7 linked regions of the Homo sapiens genome follow. The protein of the gene in region 5 interacts with the protein of the main gene of each other region in a biochemical or structural test. Each region holds a gene or a part of one and is shown on either strand. Other genes may lie near its edges.

What was found.
Region 1: the proteins of ARHGAP21 (region 5) and DGKZ interact in a test that uses a peptide from one of them, tested with the Homo sapiens proteins (one large-scale study listed by IntAct).
Region 2: the proteins of ARHGAP21 (region 5) and SLCO1A2 interact in a test that uses a peptide from one of them, tested with the Homo sapiens proteins (one large-scale study listed by IntAct).
Region 3: the proteins of ARHGAP21 (region 5) and TRMT13 interact in a test that uses a peptide from one of them, tested with the Homo sapiens proteins (one large-scale study listed by IntAct).
Region 4: the proteins of ARHGAP21 (region 5) and ATP2A2 interact in a test that uses a peptide from one of them, tested with the Homo sapiens proteins (one large-scale study listed by IntAct).
Region 6: the proteins of ARHGAP21 (region 5) and SLC22A12 interact in a test that uses a peptide from one of them, tested with the Homo sapiens proteins (one large-scale study listed by IntAct).
Region 7: the proteins of ARHGAP21 (region 5) and PALLD interact in a test that uses a peptide from one of them, tested with the Homo sapiens proteins (one large-scale study listed by IntAct).

Annotation. Positions count from the first base shown.
Region 1 is NC_000011.10:46,346,236-46,350,262, forward strand, and holds the start of DGKZ (diacylglycerol kinase zeta), read left to right. Parts: upstream 1-1,227; 5' UTR 1,228-1,424; coding exon 1,425-1,585; intron 1,586-4,027. UniProt on the Homo sapiens protein: Diacylglycerol kinase that converts diacylglycerol/DAG into phosphatidic acid/phosphatidate/PA and regulates the respective levels of these two bioactive lipids.
Region 2 is NC_000012.12:21,296,918-21,300,417, forward strand, and holds part of SLCO1A2 (solute carrier organic anion transporter family member 1A2), read right to left. Parts: coding exon 3,431-3,500; intron 652-3,430; coding exon 487-651; intron 1-486. UniProt on the Homo sapiens protein: Na(+)-independent transporter that mediates the cellular uptake of a broad range of organic anions such as the endogenous bile salts cholate and deoxycholate, either in their unconjugated or conjugated forms (taurocholate and glycocholate), at the plasmam membrane.
Region 3 is NC_000001.11:100,143,163-100,146,662, reverse strand, and holds part of TRMT13 (tRNA:m(4)X modification enzyme TRM13 homolog), read right to left. Parts: coding exon 3,454-3,500; exon of another isoform or gene 3,449-3,453; intron 2,595-3,448; coding exon 2,520-2,594; intron 137-2,519; coding exon of another isoform or gene 1-136. UniProt on the Homo sapiens protein: tRNA methylase which 2'-O-methylates cytidine(4) in tRNA(Pro) and tRNA(Gly)(GCC), and adenosine(4) in tRNA(His).
Region 4 is NC_000012.12:110,349,420-110,351,593, reverse strand, and holds the end of ATP2A2 (sarcoplasmic/endoplasmic reticulum calcium ATPase 2), read right to left. Parts: 3' UTR 1,303-2,174; coding exon of another isoform or gene 1,289-1,302; 3' UTR 501-1,288; downstream 1-500.
Region 5 is NC_000010.11:24,585,501-24,587,887, forward strand, and holds part of ARHGAP21 (rho GTPase-activating protein 21), read right to left. Parts: intron 607-2,387; coding exon 1-606. UniProt on the Homo sapiens protein: Functions as a GTPase-activating protein (GAP) for RHOA and CDC42. Downstream partner of ARF1 which may control Golgi apparatus structure and function. Also required for CTNNA1 recruitment to adherens junctions.
Region 6 is NC_000011.10:64,597,720-64,601,219, reverse strand, and holds part of SLC22A12 (solute carrier family 22 member 12), read right to left. Parts: intron 2,705-3,500; coding exon 2,581-2,704; intron 2,413-2,580; coding exon 2,297-2,412; intron 1,545-2,296; coding exon 1,330-1,544; intron 854-1,329; coding exon 745-853; intron 486-744; coding exon 282-485; intron 1-281. UniProt on the Homo sapiens protein: Electroneutral antiporter that translocates urate across the apical membrane of proximal tubular cells in exchange for monovalent organic or inorganic anions. Involved in renal reabsorption of urate and helps maintaining blood levels of uric acid.
Region 7 is NC_000004.12:168,500,052-168,503,551, forward strand, and holds part of PALLD (palladin), read left to right. Parts: intron 1-3,500. UniProt on the Homo sapiens protein: Cytoskeletal protein required for organization of normal actin cytoskeleton. Roles in establishing cell morphology, motility, cell adhesion and cell-extracellular matrix interactions in a variety of cell types.

The sequences.
Region 1 (4,027 bases), on a different chromosome or scaffold from region 5:
CAGAACCCAAGAGGGGAGGATGAAAGCGAAGGTGACACAGGATGTGGCTTGGCAGAGAGGCGTGCACACAGAAGTAGTGGGCAGCTGGTGTGGGCAGCAGGGTGGTAGGGTTTGGGGAGGTGGAAGACCATGCTTCCCAGCTCCTGGCCTCCCTTCGTCAGCCCTGCGGGGGCCATCAGAAACAGCCCCGGTGTGTGTGATGGCTGTGCCCCTACAGGTGACTGCTTGGGTTCCAATTGCTCTCATTTCTGGAGGGGGACGGCCTCGGCTGCATTGTGGGGTGTCTTTGTGTGTGCATGTGAGGTATATTTCTGGATGGGAGTGTGTGCATATGCACACACATACATATGTGTGAGGGATGTGGCAACCGGTAACCATTGTCCTGGGAGTATTTGTATGTAGGAGAAAGGTGTGTGTTCTGTGTGGGCATGTGTGCTTGTGAATGGGAGTGTGGTACCTGTTGTCCTTCTGTGTATTTGTGAGTGTGTAAGGGCTGTGCAGGTGATTCCCGTAGCATATGAGATCTATAGGTTCTGTTGAATACTATGTCAGGAAAATGCGATGTGTTGGGCCTGGGTGAGAAGGTTGGAAACCATTGTGAATAGCTGTGGAAGGATGACTTTGTAGGAGAAACTTGTGAGTTCTTTGTTGGTGTGTGTGCGAGTCATTAAGTGACTTTGGTCACTGAGTGCGAGAGGCTGGGGTGGGAAGTGTTCGTTTAAGTAATGAGTGGGCATAATTGTGTAAGGGATGTGTTTGTTCTGCGTGCATGGGGAGCACTGTGTGACTTTTGTTCCCCTGGGTGCGATTTGGGGGAGCCAAGGAGGTATGGGTGGAGATTGTGAGTGGCTATGAGTAGGGTGTGCGAGAGCGGAGGGGAGGTGGTGACAGCAGCCCTCGCGAGTGTACACTTGTGAGCGTGCAGTTGTTTGGTAGCGGAGGGATCGGGGGAGGAAAGATGCGCGTCTGGATGCGCGCAGTGCGAGTGTGCCAGGCCGGGAGATTCAGTCCCATCCAGGCGGGCCGGGCCGGGCTGGGGGCAGGGCTTTCTGCTGCCCCGCCCATTCGTCGCCCCGCCCCTCGGACCGCCCCAGCGGGCTGCAGCGCAGCGGGCGTCCGGCAGAGGGCGCTGCGGGCCCGGTGCCACCGTGCGGCCGAGGGGGCGTGCTCGGCGGCGGGCAGGCAGCGGCCCGGCCAGCTATGCGGGGTCCTGCGGCCGCGGCTGGCGGCACTTCCTGGAGCGGCGGCGGCAGCGGCTTCCCGGGCACCTGGGCGTGGGGAGCGGGGGCGCGCGGCGCGGGGCGGGCGGAGCGAGCGCGCGCCATGGAGGTGGCGGGCGGCGCGGAGCGGGCGTGCTGAGCCCCGGCCGCCGGCCCGGCATGGGCGTCTCCCGCGGGCCCTCCGCCGGCCGGGGCTAGGGCCGGATGGAGCCGCGGGACGGTAGCCCCGAGGCCCGGAGCAGCGACTCCGAGTCGGCTTCCGCCTCGTCCAGCGGCTCCGAGCGCGACGCCGGTCCCGAGCCGGACAAGGCGCCGCGGCGACTCAACAAGCGGCGCTTCCCGGGGCTGCGGCTCTTCGGGCACAGGTGAGCGGGGCGGCGGCGGGGCAGGCACCGAGGCACCGGCAGGTTACCGCTCCCTCACCGGGGGACATTCCTCGGCCACTGGGGGTCCGGGCCACTTCGGTACTGACACTGAGTCGGGGAGAGGCTGGCACCGGCGGCACGAGCCGTCTTGGCGTGGGCACCCACTGGGAGTCATCCCCCAGGGCCGGGACACGGGCGGGATCGGTCGGCTTGGCACTGTCACCGGGTGGGGGTCATTCCCTGGCACCGGCAGTCTAGTGCGCCTCATGTGTAGTACCGTGGGAGGATCGGCTCCCAACCCTCCAGCAGGAAGATGGAATCACCCCAGCCCCCGGCACAAGCAGGTTGGGCCCCCAGGACTGGTCACCCACGCCTTCTTGGCACTGATAGAACAGGGCCTCTCTGAGCCTCCTGGCACCACTGAGGTGGGGATCACACCGCCCTTTGGACTTTCGTGGGACCAGGTTGCCTACCATCACTGCGTGGCATCTGCAGAACGTAGCCCCGTTGATACCGTCACCACACATGGCTTGTCCCCAAGCTCTGGTCACTGGTTTAATTGTTTAACATGTTAAGCTTCTCCTTGGGGTTGGGGGTGCCTGATCATCTGCCCTACCTTGCTCTTAATTAGCAGAGAGACCCCAGCCCATCCCTCTGCTAGGCAGGCAGCATGTCTCCCTCTACCCTCTTCCAGCCCATGCTGGGAAAGGGATGGGGTGGGCTGGAGTCTGGAATCTGCTGGCTGTTCAAGCTTCATCTTGCCCCCTCCCCCAGCACTCCAAATGTCACCATCTTGTGCCTGTGACAGAGCTTTGACCAGGACTCTAGCGGGGAACCGGGGGGAGAGTGTGGAAAGACTGAGTGCAGGCAGTTCATGGCAAGTGTGCTGCTCTTGGTCGTGAGCCGCTGCCTGCCCTGGTAGCCGTGGTGTAAGGTAAGGGACGTGAGGCCCCAGGAGTACCTGACCTGGCTCCCTGCGCTTCTTCCTGACCGAGCCTTGCCCTTCCCTGGTGGCCAAGGAGCTTGTAGCCAATCAGCCAAGGACCCCAGAGCCACCTCAGACTGAACTCTGACCACTTGGAGTCTGCCCAAGGCCTCCCTCTCACTTTTCTGCAGCTGCCTAGACTTGGTGGCATTCACCCCCACCCCGCCCCTTAGCTTTGCTCTGCCCCTTCCCTGGGTAGACTTTACCCACCAATAACATGGGCGGTTTTCTCCTGTCGTGTGGGCTAGCATACCCGTGATGCTGACTTGTGCCCTCTACCCGTCTCACCCGGGCTAGGGCCCACTCTTTGCACCTGCACTCTGTCTCTGAGCACATGCACAGATCTGAATTCTTACACTGGCAGATGGAGCTCCGTGGGCTCCTGTGTTACCACGCAGGCTTCAATGTCATATAAAACAGAGCAGGGAGTGAAACTTCCAGTAGCTCTGTTTTGTCACCCACAGCCCTGCAAGATGGAGCAGTTTACACCCAGCTCTGCAGGATGTAGCCTCCAGTATTCACAGGCTCCGCAGGGGGAGGGAGGGGCGCCACCAGAGGCTTCCTGTTGCTGCCCACAGGGTATCAAGTGTTGGGTTCTTCTGACCTGTGGCTGTGCCCCTTCTGAAGGGCACAGGTTTGTGGGTATAGGGATGAGCACATTCGGGAGGAAGAACAAGAAACCAGAGAACCAACAGATACCTTTATGTAATTCTCTAAAATAAGCAGGGTAGGTGGTATTCTTCCTTTTGTAAAACAAAAAAAAACCAATTTTTTGTAGAGATGAGATCTCACACAGCATTGCCCAGCCTGGTCTTGAATTCCTGACCTCAAGCAGTCCTCCCACCTCGGACTCCCAAAGTGCTGGGATTATAGGTGTGAGCCACCACACCTGGCCTGTTTCTCCATTTTTATAGATGAAAGAAACACAGTCAGAGGGGATTTGCTCAGAGTCACATAGCAAGGAAGAGGTAGAGATAAGGTTTGAAGTCAAGTTGGTGTGATTCCAAAATCCACATCCCTTTCTCTATACCAGGATCCCAAACGGAACATCACAATGGCCAAGGGAGCTTTAAGAAATACAGATTCCTAGATCTTCCCTTGGCGTGTCTGACCCATCAGGTCTGGAGGTGGGGCCTGGGCATTGTTTGAAGCTTCCCAGGTGATTCTCATGTCCCATCAAGTTTGAGAAGCACAGTAGTCCGTCACGCTGGGGAGTGTAAGTGCTCTTATAGGATGCCTGATGAGAGGAAAGAAAATTCAGCAGCACCTCTGGAAGCATGTAAGGAGTGTCCTTTGTTTGGGAGCACTGTGCTGGGGATAGTGGGGCCTTCAGAAATGAATACATTCAGAGAACCCAGTAGTATCAGGCAGAGAGCAGCAAGGGAAAGCACTTTCTCCTGGCAGGCCTGGGAGCTCACTGGGGCTGGCCTCCTTCCCTTTGACTTGATGGGGCCAAG
Region 2 (3,500 bases), on a different chromosome or scaffold from region 5:
AAACCACTGAGGTTAGTGTGGTTGCAGGAAAAGCCGAATGTGTGTGGCTGCAGAGACACCTAAAACCACTAGGGGGACCAAAAAATTAAATTAGGAGGAACATAGAATCCTTGAACTGGAACCAAAAAGAGTAAAATTTGGTAGTAAAATGCACAATCCTATCTGAAAATATGTAATTTTTGCACTCCCAAATATTTGCATTCATATTATGAATTCACATTCTGACTTCAGAGAGAAGAAAATCAAGGTATTTCTGACCTCTTCCCTTCCCTACCCTTTCTTTCTTTCCTTCTTTCCTTCCTTCTTTCCTTCCTTCTTTCTTTCTTTCTTTCTCTTTCTTTCTTTCTTTCTTGAGATTAGAAGGAAGAAATCCACCAGAGTCAAAAAATATCCTAAAACACTTCAACTTAGGAGTTTGCTACACCCGCCATCACACTGTTCGTGGGGGGGAAAGTGTGCTAGTAAGGCAGAGAAAAACAAACATACCCATTAGAAAGATTGCATCTGAAGATGATATTCCATATTGCTGTTCTAGGTATTTAGGCATGAAGGAGATCATGTTAACGAATGCATTGAACTGTATCACACTTACAAGTATGAAAAGCATATAAATTGGATTGCAGGAAAGACTTTTCATGAAAGGTAGAAAATCTGAAATGAAAGAATGACAACTGTGTCAAACGAACTTGGCTTTGCATTTTGTGACTGGCTTTTCCTGAAACATCCACCTCCTCAACAAATTATGTTTTTTACTATTTTGTAATATGTATTGTTTGCTAATTCTTTTTTCCCCTTGAAAGCTGAAGTCATAGCAATGTTTTGGTGGCTTCTGGAAGTCAGTGATGTAGCTGACTGGGTAGGGATCAGAACACAACAGTTTTGCCCTCAATAAGTCACTGTTGAGTCTTAAAGATCAGTAAGCAAAACTACAAAGTGACCAAAATATTGTCTACGTCCACAGCATTTTATTACTAACCTTTTGTTCTTCTATTAATATATTCTTTTTTCTACAGCTCATTAGAATGAAAGATGCTTGTTCTGTTCTGTAAAGTCTGGAGGAAAATCGAGTTGATAAAGAAGATTTCACACAAATATTTATTTTATCACTCCCTGAACATTTGAAATAAAGATGTGTGGGAATTAATGAGATATGAATGTTCTCAAGTATCCGGAATTTTTTTTTGCTTCTTCAGAACAACAGTTTCAGTGGTTCTGCCATTGGTTCTCAGCAAGATCTACCTGGAGATATTTTTTAAAATACCAACATCCAGGTCCCATCCTCAGAGATGCTGATTCATTTGGTACATTCTAAGGACTATGTAAATGATTTAATCAAAAATGATTCCTGTTAGAAAAAGCACAGAGCCAAATGTGTGGCCTGCCTCTAGTAATGTTTGGCCTGCTTCTAGTAATGTGTGGCCTGCCTCTAGTAATGTGTGGCCTGCTTCTAGTAAATGTTCTTGGTCACACTGCTACCATTCAGGCTCAAGTTCTCACTTTTAATTTCCTTTCACTTTTCCTGTCCACATGTTCTCTGTCTTGACTTTCTTATGCACAATCTTGGTTTGCTTAATAAACTGCTCACAATTCATTCTGGAACAAAATTTCAATAAATAAACAATTTAGAAGAGGAGGACACACAGATTAATGCAAGTAAATGAGTTATAATTGTAAAATTTATATTTATGAATAGGGTACCTGACAGGAGAGAGAGTTATCTGAAGATTTTTAAGTCACCCATGTTTGTTGACATCCCTGTCCTAATAGATGAGTTTCAGTAGCACAAGTTTCTTTTCTATGTCTTGCAACAAGCTAAGCTCTTTCCTAATTTTGAAAATGGAACTGATCTTGCAGACTGCAAGAGGTCTATCAGTCCATAACAATCCTTTAAGAAGAGTTTTTAATATCATCAGAATGATTCTGAGAATTTGCAAGATTCTGAGTTGGCTCCTAATGACCAAAGATGTATTAAATTATGCTCAATTATGATTTAAGAGAATTTACAATTGTTAAGAAAAATTCTATGCAAATTGACATTGTAACTTATGGGTGATGATAGAAACAACAATGACAACATAAAAGTACTAACACTAGTATCAGTATTAATAATAATGTGTGCTAGAATGTCTTTTACCTTCACACAACAATTCTATAGTAAGTACTATTATTATCCCCATTTGACAGAAAACTGAGACCCTCACCATCCGTCAAATAAACATTTTTAAGTTCCAATAGCCAGGCTGCACATCCACACTAATTAAATCTGACCTTTTGGGAATACTACAGAACTTTCAGGCATCAATCATTTTTAAAATTTCCTAGGTGATTCCAATGTGCAGCCAAGTTTGAGCATCAGTGCTCTTGAGTACTAAATACTTAGGCTATCTTAGTTTAGTTTCCCACAGAAAAACCTTCTGTAAATTATACTTTGAGCTTTTATTGAGGTTCTGTACCAAAAAAAATGTTACATGCAATTTACCCTTTCATTTGCTGGAAAACCACTATGTGGCTCAATATTACCTGTATCATGTATCTTATGATCATTTTTAAATTTTTTTACAATTTCTTCCTTGGAGAACTGCTTCTGTTTAAAAATTATTATTCTTCCCTCTACCAAGTATAGAGAGGTGGGTCACCGATCATGTTTTTTTTTTTCTTTCTGATTTAACTTCCAGGAAGCTCTTCGTTAAACTAACACACTGGTTACAAAACTATACTACCTATTAAGATTAGAGTATACTTTTTCCTACTTTTGTTCTTAGTTTAAATTTGCTTGTTCATTTTGTTTCAATTCAACCTATGTTCTCTGTAAAATCGGTTTTTTGAGCAAATGGGACCATATATATACGTGTGTATATATATATATATATATACACACACACGTATATATATACACACACACATATACACACACATATATGTGTATATATATACGTGTATATATATATACGTGTGTGTATATATATATACGTGTATATATATATATACGTGTGTGTATATATATACATGACCCTCTCTCTCCTCTCTCTCATATATATATGTGTGTGTGTACATATATATGTGTATATATGTGTGTAGATATATGTGTGTGTACATATATATGTGTATATATGTGTGTATATATATATGTGTGTGTACATATATATGTGTGTGTATATATATATGAAAGAGAGAGAGAGAGGAGAGTGCCAAGACTGACATAAAAGTTTACACAAATGCTGATCTGAAATATTTCAGCTTCCAAATTATAATATTTATTTTCAAGTAGTACCATAGGAAGAATCGGACTAGTTAGGTATTCTTGACTGGTGACTGTTGATGACAAATTGTCTCAACACAGCATAGCATATCATAGTGTTAGACTAAAATACAGACATATCTATATGAAATAAAAGGTCAATTTCATAGTATTTAGAATATGTATATTTGCCTTTAGTGATTCCATATTTTTCCTTCTTGACCTCTTCTTTTTGTTTGTCTTCATTTTCATTTTTAATGAT
Region 3 (3,500 bases), on a different chromosome or scaffold from region 5:
GTGGTGGCACGAGTCTGTAGTCCCAGCAATTCGGGAGGCTGAGGCAGGAGAATCGCTTGAAGCCGGGAGGCGGAGGTTGCAGTGAGCCGAGATTGCGCCACTGCACTCCAGTCTGGGCGACAGAGCGAGACTCCGTCTCGAAGAAAAAAAAAAAAGAATTAAGTTATTTCAGAATTAGAAGGAGCTTTAGCAATTTATCTCAATTCATCTTTTATAAAGAACTTAAAAGACAAAGCCACATATGCAGAAAGGGACAAGGAAACACAGCAAATTGGTAGCCAAGATTATTCATTCATTCAAATATTCACTGTGTTCCTGTTATATAGCAAGCATCGTACTAAGTATATACCATATACTCAAAAAATTCAGAGCATGGTGGAAGAATTAGATATATAAACAGATAATTAAAATACCACAAGGTAAAAATATGCAGAGGGTATTATGATAACACCAAGGAGGCATATCTTATTTAAGGGAGCTCCCTGAGAGTGGTGACAACTGAGGTGAAGGATGAGTAAAAATTGACCAGTTGTTTTGTTTGGGTGAGTAGGTGAATGGGGGTGAAATTCCAGATATAGTAGAAATAGTACAGTCTATGGAAAAGCACACAGGGTTTGATGTTGCTGAACAGCAAAGTAGGAGACAGGGAATGTAAAGAGAGGAAGGCTGAAGCCAGATTGAGACTAAAACGTTATGTCAAAGAGTTTGGACTATATCAGGAAGTACCGAAGAGTTTAAAGGGAAAGACACATTAGTTGTGTAGCAGATGGGTCTGAGATTGATTGACCGATTGAGATAGGGTCTTGCTCTGTCACCCAGGCTGCAGTGCAGTGGTGCTATCCCAGTTGACTGCAGACTCAGACTCTTAGGCTCAAGTGATCCTCCCACCTCAGCCTCCTGAATAGCTGGGACTACATGCACAAGCTATCGTGCCCAACAAATTTCTGTAGAGATGGGGTCTTCCTATGTGCCCAAGCTAATCCTGAACTCCTAGCCTCAAGCAATCATCTCACCTCAGCCTCCAGTGTTGGGTTTCCAGGCATAAGCCACTGTGCCTGGCCTGAATATTAGTATTTTAAGGACAGAAGTGGAAGGAGACTGTGAAATAAACAGAAGAATGGCATAGATGTAGGGGAAGAACCAGGAAATAAGAGTATCGCAAAAGAGAAGAAAATGGAATTTCAAAAAGGGTAAGCAACTGCAGCAGAGACAAAAGGAGGATTCAGATACAGTGAATCAAGGGAAAAAATTATGTGGAACATGAGAAATGGCCACTGTAGGTCAAAAGAGTGTACTCCCTCCTACCCCCGGGATGGAACTGGTTTACTTTAGAAGACTTTTATGAGGCTTAAATGAGATAAGGTATGCAAAAGTACAGTCATGCATTGCTTAACTATTGGTGTATGTTTTGGGAAATGCATTAGGCGATTTCATCATTGTAGGAACATCAGAGTGTACTACACAAACCTAGATGGTGTAGTGTAGCCTACTACACACCTAGGGTGTATGGCACAGCCTATTGCTCCTAAGCTACAAACCTGTACAGCATGTTACTGAATACTGTAGGCAACTGTAACACAATGGTATTTGTGTATCTAAATACAAAAAAGGTACAGTAAAAATATGGTATAATTTTATAGGACCACTGTCATATATGAGTCCATTGTTGACCAAATCATCGTTATGTTGTACATGACTATAGTCTTAAAAACTATGAAGGCCAACACAAATATATAGTACTCAATGCCATTTCCAGCCAATATGAATAATATCTATGGATGCTCCAAGTAATCCATATGGGTAGATGATGAAACTAGCAAAAGTTAGGAAGATGATGTAACAATAATTAACATTTATTGAGCACTATTATGTGCCAGACACTTTACATGCAACCCGGTAAATTATTAATATATTAGTATCTCTGTTTTATAGATGAGGTAACCAAAGCTCAGAAAGGTTAAGTAATTTGACAAGGTTACACAACAAAGCTGAAGGCTAGACTATCTGATTCTAAAGCACATGCTGTTTCCACTTTACCATGCTAGATCTGATGGATCAAAGTGCTAAGACAAGACATCTTAGATTTTTTTTTTTTGTCTAACATTTATTTTTTTCTTTTTCCCCAGAATCCTGAAACACAATAGTCTTTTAGTAGAAGAGGTTTCTGAGTTCTTTCTAAGCAACTACTCTAAAAAATCAGTAGCTTCTAGGTGGAATCATACAGTTTCCATAAATGGTCTTATTTTCCTTTTCTGGTTGAAATTTAACCCAAAGAACTTTAAGGTCTAATGTGATGCAGTATTTACATACAAAACTCTTAATTCATCCTGCAAAATGGCCAATATGAGCAGATAAATAGGAAAGCTATGCATCTAATAAAGCACAGGGCCAGTGCTCTATAAAGATTATTGAGTTGTAAACATAAGATATCTATTCAAAAGAGACCACTGAAATGGTTGGGGCCAGGTTAGGCCAAAACTTAATGCATTAATGTAAACATTATCAGTATGTTTACGTACCTGTTGCCATACCACACAGATGCTTTCCAATTCCTACCACAGGTAGTTTTTCTTCTCTTAGCACAGGAATCTTGTCTGAAATGGAAATGAGAATTAACTGTCTAGTGAAATAAAGTACATATTAATGTGGCCTTCCAAAAGAAAGAACTAATTAGAGTCTCTGAATTTTAGCCTGAAAGAGACTCAAACAAAAATTATCACTTTATGGAACCCAACATATAACATAAGAACTTGTTTAGGGTTCATAACATCAGAAAGTTAATATATTCAGCTAAATAATTTTAAATACATTGATTTCTATACAAATGCTGGGTTGCTTTTCATGGCTGGATTAAAATTGGTGAATGGAAGAGGTTGCAAAGATATGTTTGCATTATTTTCTTTGGATAATCTGAAAAATAGAAAAGGTATAAAAAGGGCACTACAGAGGTTGATTGAGGAGTTTGTGTGTGTATGTGTCTGTGTGTGTTTTGTGTATGGAATATGAATCCCACAGTGATGACTTCTTTTGTACAATTTAAAATTCTAGGAAGTATCTTTTACACATTAGCTAGGCAGAGAAATATCTCATTTTCTTTCATGGTTTAGGTAAAGTCACGTTAACTGCAGGCAGAAGGCTAGTTTATAGTTTGAACAGACTCAAAATTAATTTAAACAGGACAAAGAAACAACAGAAGTACATATTATAAAACTTTTAAACTCTTCCCTAATATAACACTTCATTTCCACTTGATACTGAAAATTTTTAAAATTCTCAACCTTAATTCAATTTACATCTATTTAAAAACATTATATAAAACATTCTATATTAACAATGAATTGATTTGACTGTTTTCCCTGAAGCACAGTTCTGCATGATTGGATTTCTAAGCAACCTCAGAGTTTAAAACAGTTATGATTTATTTGTAGACCAATGGAAAGTTACACAACTTACTCAAACACAAGTGTTGAATATCAATTTGAAGTCTTTCAAACACTGAA
Region 4 (2,174 bases), on a different chromosome or scaffold from region 5:
TGCCAAATAAGCACTAAAGTAACCAGCAAATGAATTCCAACAGCTGCTTCAGTTCTGTTCACCTCTCCATCCCATACCTATCAACAACGGGGAATGTGGAAGTTTTGGATCTGAACAGCCTAAGAAACATCTCTCCATTGCTAGTCTCCAGATCTTTCCAGGCTGCTAACAATGGAGAGCGCGGAGTCTTGGCTTTCTTCACCACACTGACGAGTGAGGCCTTGTGTGTTTAAGACCCCACTGGTAACACACACTCAGCTTCCCCCATCCTTAAAGGGTAGGGAGCCAGGGTGGGCTTCACATGGGCGGACCTGCTGCCAGTCAGCCTGTCTACTGTGAAGTCGAGTCCAAGAGGTTCCTGTCCCCTCTAGTCACATGGCCACCCTGCCCAGACTGAGCCTCCCCTGCTTCCCTGTAGAGGGGCAGGCCCGGGTGCGGAGTGGAGGCCCTTGGTGCCCATCAGTCCCCCTCCCACAGAACAGTCACCACCACACTGAGAATTTATCATAGAATAGATTTATTTACCTGAAACCATGTCTGTGCGACGCTCATTGTTACCAGCACAGAAAGAAACAAACTGATCTCTATTTACAGTCTAAAGTCAAACATGCGCAGTGATAAATTGACATTTAGCATTTTATTAAGATAAATGCATCACAATATTTGTATTGCACCAACATCTGTCTACTGCTTCTGATTTCATTAAATAAGTTACATTTAATACAGTGCGAAATAGCTGTCTGCACACTCAGAAAATAACTGAAAATGAACTGGAGGCCTACATTTTAACCATTCAACACCTGTAGTGTTTTTAATGAATTTATAAATAAGCAAACTGTACAGGGCCAATTAAAAAGTAGCATGTTCCAATGTCACTGGAGAGGGATCTGGCTACTTACAACCGAAGGCATGCATTACAATTGAATACTGTACATTTATATAAGCTATGACATTTTGCAGAGAAATGTGGCGACTTGGCTGACGGCTTCCAAGTTCTTAGATAAGGTTACAGAGCCTCATTCCTCTTGCAGCAAAGAAACCAAACTTCTCTGGAGAGGCTTTCTGATTAAGCTAAATTGTACATCTGTAATCAGTATTTTGATTTAAAAGCTAACAACCCCATTGGTAATACACATTTCCTCCACATAACACAAAGTGAGTTGGGAAGTTTTTTACTTTTCTTTTTCCCCAACATCAGTCATGCACAGGGTTGGTAGATGTGTTGCTAAAAACGCACATGCACGCAACCGAACACCCTTACATTTCTGCAAAATGGTTTAGGAAGCGGTTACTCCAGTATTGCTGAAAAGGAAAGAGAGAGGAAATCAGCTTCATGAAATACAGAGAGGAAACGTTAGAATACCTATTTAAATAGATGAAGATCAACAGCGACAGATGAAAAGGAACATTCAGCTTGATCTTTTCAAGGTTTCAAGACCAGCATTTCTGATTTACTGTCCCTGAGGTGCCGCCCACACAGGGTAGCATCTAGAAGCACTGGCTCAGTGACACAGACTCCTCGTGTCGTCTGGCTACAGAATAAAGGCTCTGGAGGAAAACCCCATGAGGCAGACACAATCGTTGCAGCTGTGAAAGCAGCGAGACAGGCAAGAGGACAAGGTCTTGGTTAGTGGTGCAGAGGGTGAGGTTGATGGAGAAGTGAGCAGCCAGTAGCAGCACAGCCTTCCTGTCCCTGCCCTGTGGGCACCCGGCTTCTGGCTGCTCGCCTGCCTTGCCTAGCCCTGGAGAGGAAACTCCTCCGCATCATTCTCCTCAGTAAAGGAGGGTGAAGCCTACCCTTCTTGCTAACTGCAGCGGGTGTTTGGACAATTTGGTGGTTACAGTCACAGGGCAACTGCTGGCTCTGCTCACAGGCACTGCAGACGTGGTATGCTCTGGCCCTGGACAGTGGCTAGATGCTTGGTAGACACTGAGCTAATCTTGTGGTCTCAGGTCTTAGGTCTGCCCACCTCAGTCAGGGCTGAAGCTCCAGTCCGAGGGGATGTGGGAGCAGCTGTTGTGAGGGAAGTCGGCCAGATGCCCTGCTTGCCTGGGAGCTCACTGAGCTCAAGGGACAGCTTCCTCCAGAATGGATCATCTGCATTCTGCAGAGTGGTGTCCCAGTTAGGGTATGTATGATTGTTGGTCTTCTGGGCAAAGCTCAGAGAGGCCAA
Region 5 (2,387 bases):
CAAGTATGTAGCAGACGATGTGGTGGAATAATCTGAGGTGATGGTGCTGACGTTGGCCAAAAACTCGCTATGTTTCGTTTCTGGACTGGTTGATTTCTTCATGGAAAACCTTGCCAGGGAGGCCTGGGAAGACGTGCTGAGCAAAGTGCCAGAGTCAGAGCCTGTCTCTTCAAGGTGGGAGGACTTCTGTGCCAGAAGTGACCTGGGGCTCTCTTTCAGGATGGCAAAGCGACAGCTGAGAGTTGGTGACTTGTTGTGTTTTGAGTTGTGTGGTGGTGAGGGTTCTTCAGAAGGCGTGCTCTCTTTTCCTAGTGATATCTTTTCATCTTTTGTCGTGCTGGGGTCTTTCCTAGTGCTGTTTTCTTTGGCAATGATGATCTTCTGTTTTCTGCCCAGTGTCTCACTTTCTTTTTTGGACTCCTCTTTAGTATCATTGTGACACTGTTCCACATTTTCTTTCTTAAAAAATACATTGTCCAGTTCATCTTCTGAGCTGCTAGGCTGTGCTTTTTCTTTCGGCTTCTTCCTCTTGCGACTAGCAGCTGCAAAGATGGAGGACACAAGCAGTTCCCTGCTATACTGATCCTTTCCAGATCCCCAAGAACCCTGGGAAGCAAGAGAGAAGAAAGACTCTGAGCATAAGAATGCAGCTGAGTTCATTTTCTGACAAGCTTGTCTCCCAAATATTTCTTATCAAATTATATCTACTAAAGCTCTGGAAGCATTAACAGTGCAATTAGCTTTTTTTTTAATACCTCTTTTTACCTTGAACCAAAGTCAAATTTTTATTTAATGAGTCCAATTTCTTGCCTCGTGGTATTTAACTGCCAAGCCACAGCTCATACACATCTGCCTTTCAGGAAAATAGTCTGTGCTTAGTGCTGATTCCTATCAAAATCCCCCAAACACCTGACCTTCCCTCCTTCCACAGTGCCCAGGCATTCTTCACTTCCTTCATTTGGAATAGAGGCATGGGATAGGTAAAACAATATTGTGACACGGTCAAACATCATATTCTGATATAGGTTATTAAACATCACATTCTGATATAGGTTATTAAATGTTTATGACTGACTTTGATTTTTCTAATTACAGGTACCACATGATATAGATACTGTATCAGATAAGCTCATTGAGATAAGGGAACTCTGGTCTTCCATTAGTTCATTCAGGCAGGATCTTCAAGGATCTGCCTTAAGTAAATCAGGTTGGTAATGTCTTCATTTATCTCAAGGTAACAATGGAATTAGAATATTCAAAAAACAGGCCAGGTGTGGTGGCTCATGCCTGTAATCCCAGCACTTTGGGAGGCTGAGGCGGGCAGATTGCTCGAGCCCAGAAGTTCGAGATCAGCCTAGGGAACATGGTGAAGGCCTGTCTCTACAAAAAATTAAGTGGGCATGGTGGCACGCACCTGTGGTCCTGGCTACTTGGGAGGCCGAGGTCAGAGGATCACCTGAGCCTGGGGAAGTCAAGGCTGCAGTGAGCATGAGGGTACCATTGCACTCCAGCCTGGGTGACAGAGTGAGAACCCACCCCAGGAAGGTAGAAAGGAAAGATCAATTAACATAAGTACAATTAAATCCTTACCACAGAAACACTGTAGTGCAGTGTTATTGGGAAAGTTATTTGCTATGTATAATAGGTTCTTTTAAAAAAAATTTTTTAAGATGGAGTTTCACCATGTTGCCCAGGCTGGTCTAGAAGCCTTAGTCTCAAGCTATCCTCCCACCTCAGCCTCCCAAAGTGCCAGGATTTACAGGCATGAGCCACTGCATCTAGATATAATAGGTTCTTGATTGCAACTATTAGTTTCTTCCTAAATATCTGCTGGTTTACCACACACTTTTTAAGACAAGCAGGTAGGCAGGAGGTATGCTGAGTAATAGAAACAGACAGTATATTTCTCTATTGCCTGCAAATCTTAGACAAGTTAAAACTGCTCTATTTAAAGTCTTAAAGTAAAAATTTAGGCTGTTCTATCAAAGAATTTAGGCTGTTCTATCAAAAATTCGCTAAGATGAAATCACAGATGAACAGAACTTTGTTTTTACAAGTTATAAAGACTTTCATAATTATCCAGCACATTTCTAATGGTTATTTACATTTCCCCACATTGTGCTGAAGACTGTAGGGGATAATGGTTGTGACTGGGCTCTCAATTGGGAGACCTTGATGTCCATCCTCTCTAGCTTGCTGGGTACGAGCAAGGGATTCACTTTTAAACATCTCAGTTCCGTGGCGAGAAGCAATTAGATTATACTGTCTTTCAGATTTCCTTAAGGTTCTCTTTACAATTCTATGATCATATATGTGTTGAGGCAAATTACTCTACTTTTCTACAGAGACTGTTTGTTAGAAGTAGTTAATCATGTCATTGGGATATC
Region 6 (3,500 bases), on a different chromosome or scaffold from region 5:
TTGGCCTCTCTCAGGGTGGACCTGGGGGAGCTTGTCCATTTGTGCCTTGAATGGTGGAGTGAAAGGCAGAGGACAAAGCCCTAGGTCAAAGCACTGCCAGCCGGAGACTGAGCCCTGGGTTGCCACTCTCCCAGAGATGTACTGTGTGACTCTGGGCCAATCCTATCTGTCTGGGCCTCTGCTTCCGCCTCTGTCAAGTGATGGGGATGGGTGAGCAGGCTGCCCTGTGCTAGGGTTCTCTGGTGGGAGGGAGGGGTGGTCCCGAGGCTGGGTCCACTCACTGGTTCTGCACATCTTGGATGGTGTCGGGCAGCGGCAAGCTCTGGGTCTCGGGCAGAAGCAGTGCGGCCAGGCCACTCAGCACTGGCACCGTCCCATACACCAGCAAGGGCAGCCAGGGGCCATGGACACCCAGCAGCCGGACCAGAGGCCCCAGGATGGCTCCTCCACGGGCTGCCATCTGGCCCAAGCCCACTGCCGTCATCCTGCCAATGCAGATGCACCTATAAGCGCCTGGTCTGTGTGCCCACAGCCTTGATCCTGCACGCCGGGCCAGGCCCGCTTGGCCCAGGGAGACCCAGGGGGTCAGGCTGGGCTTGGGATGCACCTGAGCAGCCCCGGGGACCACACAAGAGGGAGATGCATGACATGAACATCTAGGTCTGGGAGAAGCCAGTCCTGCCTGGGGGTGCCCCGCAGCTCAGCCCAGGGCTCCCCTCTCCTGGAGCCCAGGCCCAGCCTCACCTGAGCACAGTGGGGAAGAGCTCGCTGCTGTAGATGGTGATGCAGGTGAAGGCAGCCCCCACCCCGCCCAGCCCCAGCACGGCCAAGGCTGAGCGCAGAGCCCCCATTTCTGTGGGTAGAGATGGGATTAGTGAGCTTGGTGGGGGGCCCAAGATCAGATGAGGGCTCCCTTCAGCCCAGGGGGCTTGTCCCTGACTTTCAGGCCTCTTTGTAAATGTTTGGGAGTCATCTCCATCTGGGTATCCTGTCCTGAGTGGCCTCATGGCCACACCCACAATCTGCTCCACGCTCAGACACCCAGAGCCAGCCCCGAGGAGTCCTTCTTGACCCCGTTTCCCTCCTCCTGCAATCCATCACTTAGTTCTCATTTTAACTCCACACTTTTCCCTGGTGCCACCCATGCCACTCCTTCACCGCTCTTGCTGGCTCAGTGCAGACACTGCCGTCTGTCCCTAGACGGCTCCGGCAGCCTCCTTCCTACCAGGGTACCTGCTCTAGTCCAGCACCTCCAAGGAGGGGTGCTGTTCCCAGCCCGAGACCCCCCCAAGGTAGGGAAGTCTCTGGTGTACAGCTTTGCCCCCTCACCGTGGGGCACCAGCGTGTTGGCCAGAATGCAGAGCCCTGCCAGCAACAGGGATGCGGCCAGCGTGGGGCGGCGGCCCAGGTGGCTCAGCAGCAGCAGGGCGCCCATCTTGGCTGGGATGTCCACGACACCAATGAACATTTGGAGCAGGAAGATGTTGCTGCCCAGGGCCTGCAGGTCCAGGGCCAGGCCGAAGAAGGTGAAGCCAAAGGCGAACCTGGGGCAGGGGTCAGGGAAGTCAGGGTGGGGGTGGGGGGTGGGGGGGGGTGGTGGGCAGGGTGGGAACAATGGGCGGTGGGGGCTCAGGGTGGGGGTGTGCTGCTCTTAGCTCAGTGTTCTGGCCCTTCAGCTGCCAGCTCTGTGGGGCGGGGCCAGTCTCTAGACTATGTTTATCAGGTCCCCTTGCCAGCATGGCTTCCCTTTGGGTTTGGCTGATGGGAGGTGCTGGCAAGAGGTTGGAGGAGGGGAGAAGCAGGGGATTTCTGCCTCCCTCTCTGCTTGGGGGCTTTGTCTGGGAGTGACTATGTCCCTTCCGTGGCTCCAGCTGCCACTGAACAGTCCTTCCCTCCTTGGCCTTGGCGGTTTTGGTCTTTGCTGGATGGCCATGGGTCCTGGGCTCTGATAAGCCCTCTCCGCCCTCCCTGGCCCCACACCAGGCAGGGGTGCTTGCGGCCCATGCTGTTGCCTGGATCACCCCTTCGTCATGCCTGGCTCCCAGCCCTCCCAGGAGCTTTGTTAGGGATCCTACCTACTGCATCTCTTTTATCTGCCTTGCCCCTTATTAAGGCCCCCTCAGTGAGCCCACCCGGCCTGGGTTGTCTCCTGTCGGGAGTGACTGACAGAGGGGAAGGTGTCGGTGTTGCAGGCCAGTGGGACCAAGCGGAGCCAGCAGAGGCCGGGGCCGTGTGCCAGCGAGAGCCCCGATTCCAGGTTCCCCTGTGGAGGTGGGGTTGGGGGAAGGGCATCTACCAGCACAACGTGGAGATACAGGTCCGGAAGCGCAGTCCGGGCATGCGGAGCAGGGTGCCCAGGCTGGCAGGAGGCTGGCCCATGCTCAGCTCCTCCCGCATGGCTGAAAGCAAGACCTGTGGAGGCGGGGGTGGGTGCTGTTGGCACTGGGGGCGCCAGGCACCTCCTCCTCTCTGAGACCTTCTTCCCAGGGAGCTGAGGTCCTTGGTGGGTCTCCCAGGGTGCCCTATGCAGGGGCAGGGAGAGGGTCTGAGGGTCCGGGTTTGAGGAGGACCCAGCCTTACCTCAGGGGTCAGGGTGTCCTGCACTGCCCCCTTTCCGTTGATGGCAGCCACCCTCCACAGCTCCTGCAGGCCCCAATCCAGCCTGCCTGTGGTGAGGAGCCATCGTGCCGACTCTGCCAGCCACCTTAAGTGGAGGGGGCGTGGGAGGGGTCATTGCCTGTGGCCCCCAGTGCCTGGCCTGCGCCAGCCTCAGACTGCTACCCTGTACCCACTGCTCCAGGCCCAAGGCTTAGGGCGGCTGAGGACCCCGAAGGGCGTTGTGGCAGCCAAGCCCTCTTGGGCACCCTCCTTCCCCAGCAGGAGACCCCTTCTGCTGCCTTTCTCCCTCCTAGGGATTGTGGTTGGGATGCTGTTCTCATCCTGGGGCTGGCTGCTGGGATGGAGGGAGGGATGACTCTGTGGAACCCTTCCTGCCTCCCTCCAGACCCCACAGCCCTTCCCCTGCCTCGCTAGGAACCCGGCCTGGTTGCAGTCAGGGCCCCTAGGGCTACAGGACCACTGGATCCTGGCCACTGCCAGGACCTTGGCCATCTCCAAGGCGACTGGGGTCCACCCCTGTCCTGGCACCTCCCATACCACATGGCCTTCCTGTCCACCCCATGGCTGCATCTTCCTCCTGCAAACAGCTTCACAGCCACCCCGGGGCTCAGGCTGGGACCAGGGTCCCCAACAGCACCAGCGCCCTCTGGCCGCACCCTGTCAGCTGATTCCCACACCTCCAGGACCCCTCGCACCTGAGTCTCTGCTATCTCGGCCTCATGAGCCCAGCACCTCCCCTCCTTGTGGCAGGACCCAGCCCCTCACACTGACCTGTCTCCCACTACCCTCAGTGTCAAACCGAGCTTATGCCACACCGTCCCGCCCCGCCTGCTGAGCGCCTGCCATGCCCACCACTCTACACGGGGCCTGCCTCTAGGCCT
Region 7 (3,500 bases), on a different chromosome or scaffold from region 5:
TGGGCCAAATAATTGAAACTTTTTCTGCTGCAGTTGTGGGTAATACAAACAATAAAATAGAAAAATAACATCTACTACATGGATTGTTCTGAGGATCAAACTGTTCACTTTTGAAAGCAGGTAACTTCCAAGCTGTTATGTAGGAACAACTTGCATTGTCACTGAATTCTTTCTACTTACTAGACTCTGCTCTTTCTCATGTATATTCCTTGTCTTCCCCAAGTTCCTCCACGTCAAAGAAATCTGTTGTAATTTCAACAGTCAATAGTGCCTTGATTCATGGGGATCATGCCAGGGGGTGGTCCCATAAGTCTTGTTTGTTTGTTTTTTGAGTCAGGGTCTCACTCTTTTGCCCAAGCTGGAATGCAGTGACCTGATCATCGCTCACTGCAGCCTAGAACTCTTGGACTCAGACAATCCTCCCACCTCAGCCTCTGGAGTAGCTGGGGCTACAGGCACACACCATCACACTCAGCTAAGTTTTTGGGTTTTTTTTTGTATTTTTGTAGAGATGAAATCTAACTATGTTGCCCAGGCTGGTATTGAACTCCTGGGCTCAAGCGATCTTCCTGCCTCAGCCTCCAACAGTGCTGGGAGTACAGATGTGAGCCACCATGCCCAGCCCCCTATAAATATTTCTTAACTGACAACATAGAGGATTCTCCCAAATATCATAGAGCTGGCTTTCAGGTAATCTATCCCCAAAAGTCAGCAACTTTAAAGGCAAATGGTAGTCATAATTTTTAAATTTGTCTATTTTTTCTATCATTTGTATATTCATATATGAATGTGAACCATATACATTTATGCCTATAGTACATATTCAGGATCTAAAAAATAAATGTTTTGCCAAATATTAGGATAGTCATGCCAAGATAAGATTCACAAAATTACTTATGTCAAATGTGTAATATACATACCAATGAAAACTTATTTATATGTTCTATATTTTATAGTATACCATGAATCTAACAGAATTCAGATGACACTAACTTAGGGAGAAGTTGCGAACCATAAAATTACAATTAAAATTAATCTATAAATTAAGTGACATAAAATTCCTTAAGAAAGAATGAAATAGCCAGGCCTGGTGGCTTGTGCCTGTAATCCCAGCAACTCAGGAGCCTGAGGCAGGAGGATTGCAGAGGCCAAGAGTTCAAGACAATACTGGGCAATGAAAGGAGACCCTATCTCTACAGAAAATAAAAAAGAATTAGCAGGACTTGGTGACATGCACCTGTAGTCCCAGCTACTTGGGAAGCTAAAGTAAAAGGATCCTTTGAGCCCACTAGATCAAGGTTGCAGTGAGCTATGATCACACCATCGCACTACTACAGCAGGGGCAAAATTGAAAAGAAAGGAAAAGAGAAGAAGAAGAATGAGATATGCCCAGGGAGTTAACAAAATAGGTCACCGTGGACATTTACCTTTGAAAGCAATATTTGCTTAGGATAAGCCAAGATGCTTATAAGGATATAAGCTGCCTGTTGACAATTCAAGGTTGATAGGATTCTGTAATGACTCACAATATTTGCCAACCCTCCCAAACCTTTGCTTCACCAAATGTTTGCTTAAGATGAAGAGTTTGGCATTAGGCACATGTTGAAATTCACCTGGGAGAATTTCCCTTCAGAGCGCCATGAGGTGACATGGCAGCTGCCCCCATGGTACACTCTGAAGGAACCTAAAGGACCATTGACCTGAGCATGTTCTCCTCTTGTGACTTTCACCACCCTCCCCGCCAAGGGTGTGCCCCCCAAAACAACAGTGGTCTGTAGATGTGAACATTAACATGCGAATGTGCACTTCATTTTATCTTATATGTCTGCACCCTAACAACTTTCAAAGCTAGTTTGAGGCTGTATGCAATAAAAGCATAGTACAATTGCCCAAAATCAATTAAGAAAATGCAGATCAAACCAAGTATAAAAAGCTTTGAACTTGAAATGTTTTCTCAATTTACTACCTTTGTCCTTTCTCTTCTTAGAATCTTAACTCCCTAGGACAGAGAATCTATCTTCTTTCCAGCTATGTCCCTGGCCTATGAAAGAGGTGCCTAGCACATAGTAGGCACTCAATAAATAAATGCTGACTGAATAAAACAATGAGAAAAGTAAGCAAAATAAATTTTTTTTTTAGCTAAAAACATCTGAATTTCTATGACTGGAAATTTAACCCTGAGCTTGCTAGTATCCGTGTGAAAGAGTCATCAAAGTTTACAGAATTCTTTGTCTAACAGAATTGCCAGAAAATAGAATAAATGCTTTTCTAGTTCCAAATTTTTTCATGAGAAACTTTCTTTGAGGGTAATGAGAAAGACTGACATCCACGTCTTTATAGATACTTTTTTTTAACACAATGTCTGACCTATGACTGATTTTGCTTTAGCGAAATGAGCAGGTAAAGTGTATTTTATATGTAGACACAAACAGTTATGTGTTATATGTATACACTAACATTTAGCACTGATTACTCTATCAAGTTTTTACCAGAAAACAGAGCCCGGGACACAAGCAACAGTTGATAAAACAGAAGAAAAACCTAGTTTAAGAGCAGAATAATGTTTAGCTGCACTCAGTGGCTCACATCTGTAATCCCAGAACTTTGGGAGGCCAAGGCAGGAGGAGCCCTTGAGTCCAGGAGTTTGAGACTGGCATAGGCGAAAAAGGGAGACCTCGTTTCTACAAAAATATATTTTAAAATTTAGCCAGGCCTGACGATGCACACGCGTAGTTCTAGCTACTCAGGAGGATGAGGCAGGAGGATCCCTTGAGCCCAGGAATTCAAGGCTACAGTGAGCTATGATCATGCCATTGCAGTCCAGGCCGGGAGACAGAATGAGACCCTCACTCAAAAGAGCAGAATAACACTTAGCTGAAGAGAGCATGTCCCAGAGAAATGTCGCAGCAGGTTCTGGGAGGCTGAAAGCAAATCAGTCATCAGAACATTTCCTGCCTCGTGCCTTTGTTCACATGTGTGTCAAATCCTATCCAGGGCTCAAACCACATTTCAAACACCCGGTATTTCTTAGCTTTTCTCCATCAGCTGCTGTAACCCAGTGTGCTAAGCATTTGCCATACAAAGACGCCAGTCACAGCTCCTGCTTCCATTGGGCTCACAGTTGAATGAGGAAAGCATTCTCTAAACAAATACTTGTAATTTAATATGATGACTGCTGTGAGAAACGCAATGCAAAGTAACATGCTTGGAAGAAGAAGCAAATTATATTGATTGGGGAACTGTTAGAAAGCACCAAAAAGTGGTAAAATTTAAGAAAGTTTTCAAGGATGAACCGGAGTTTGAAAAACAGAAAGAGGGCTGGATGCAGTGGCTCATGCCTGTAATCCCAGCACTTTGGGAGGCCAAGGCGGGTGGATGACAAGGTCAAGAGATCGAGACCATCCTGCTAACAAGGGGAAACCCTGTCTCTACTAAAAATACAAAAATTAGCCGGGCATGGTGGTGGGCGCCTGTAGTCCCAGCTACTCAGGAGGCTGAGG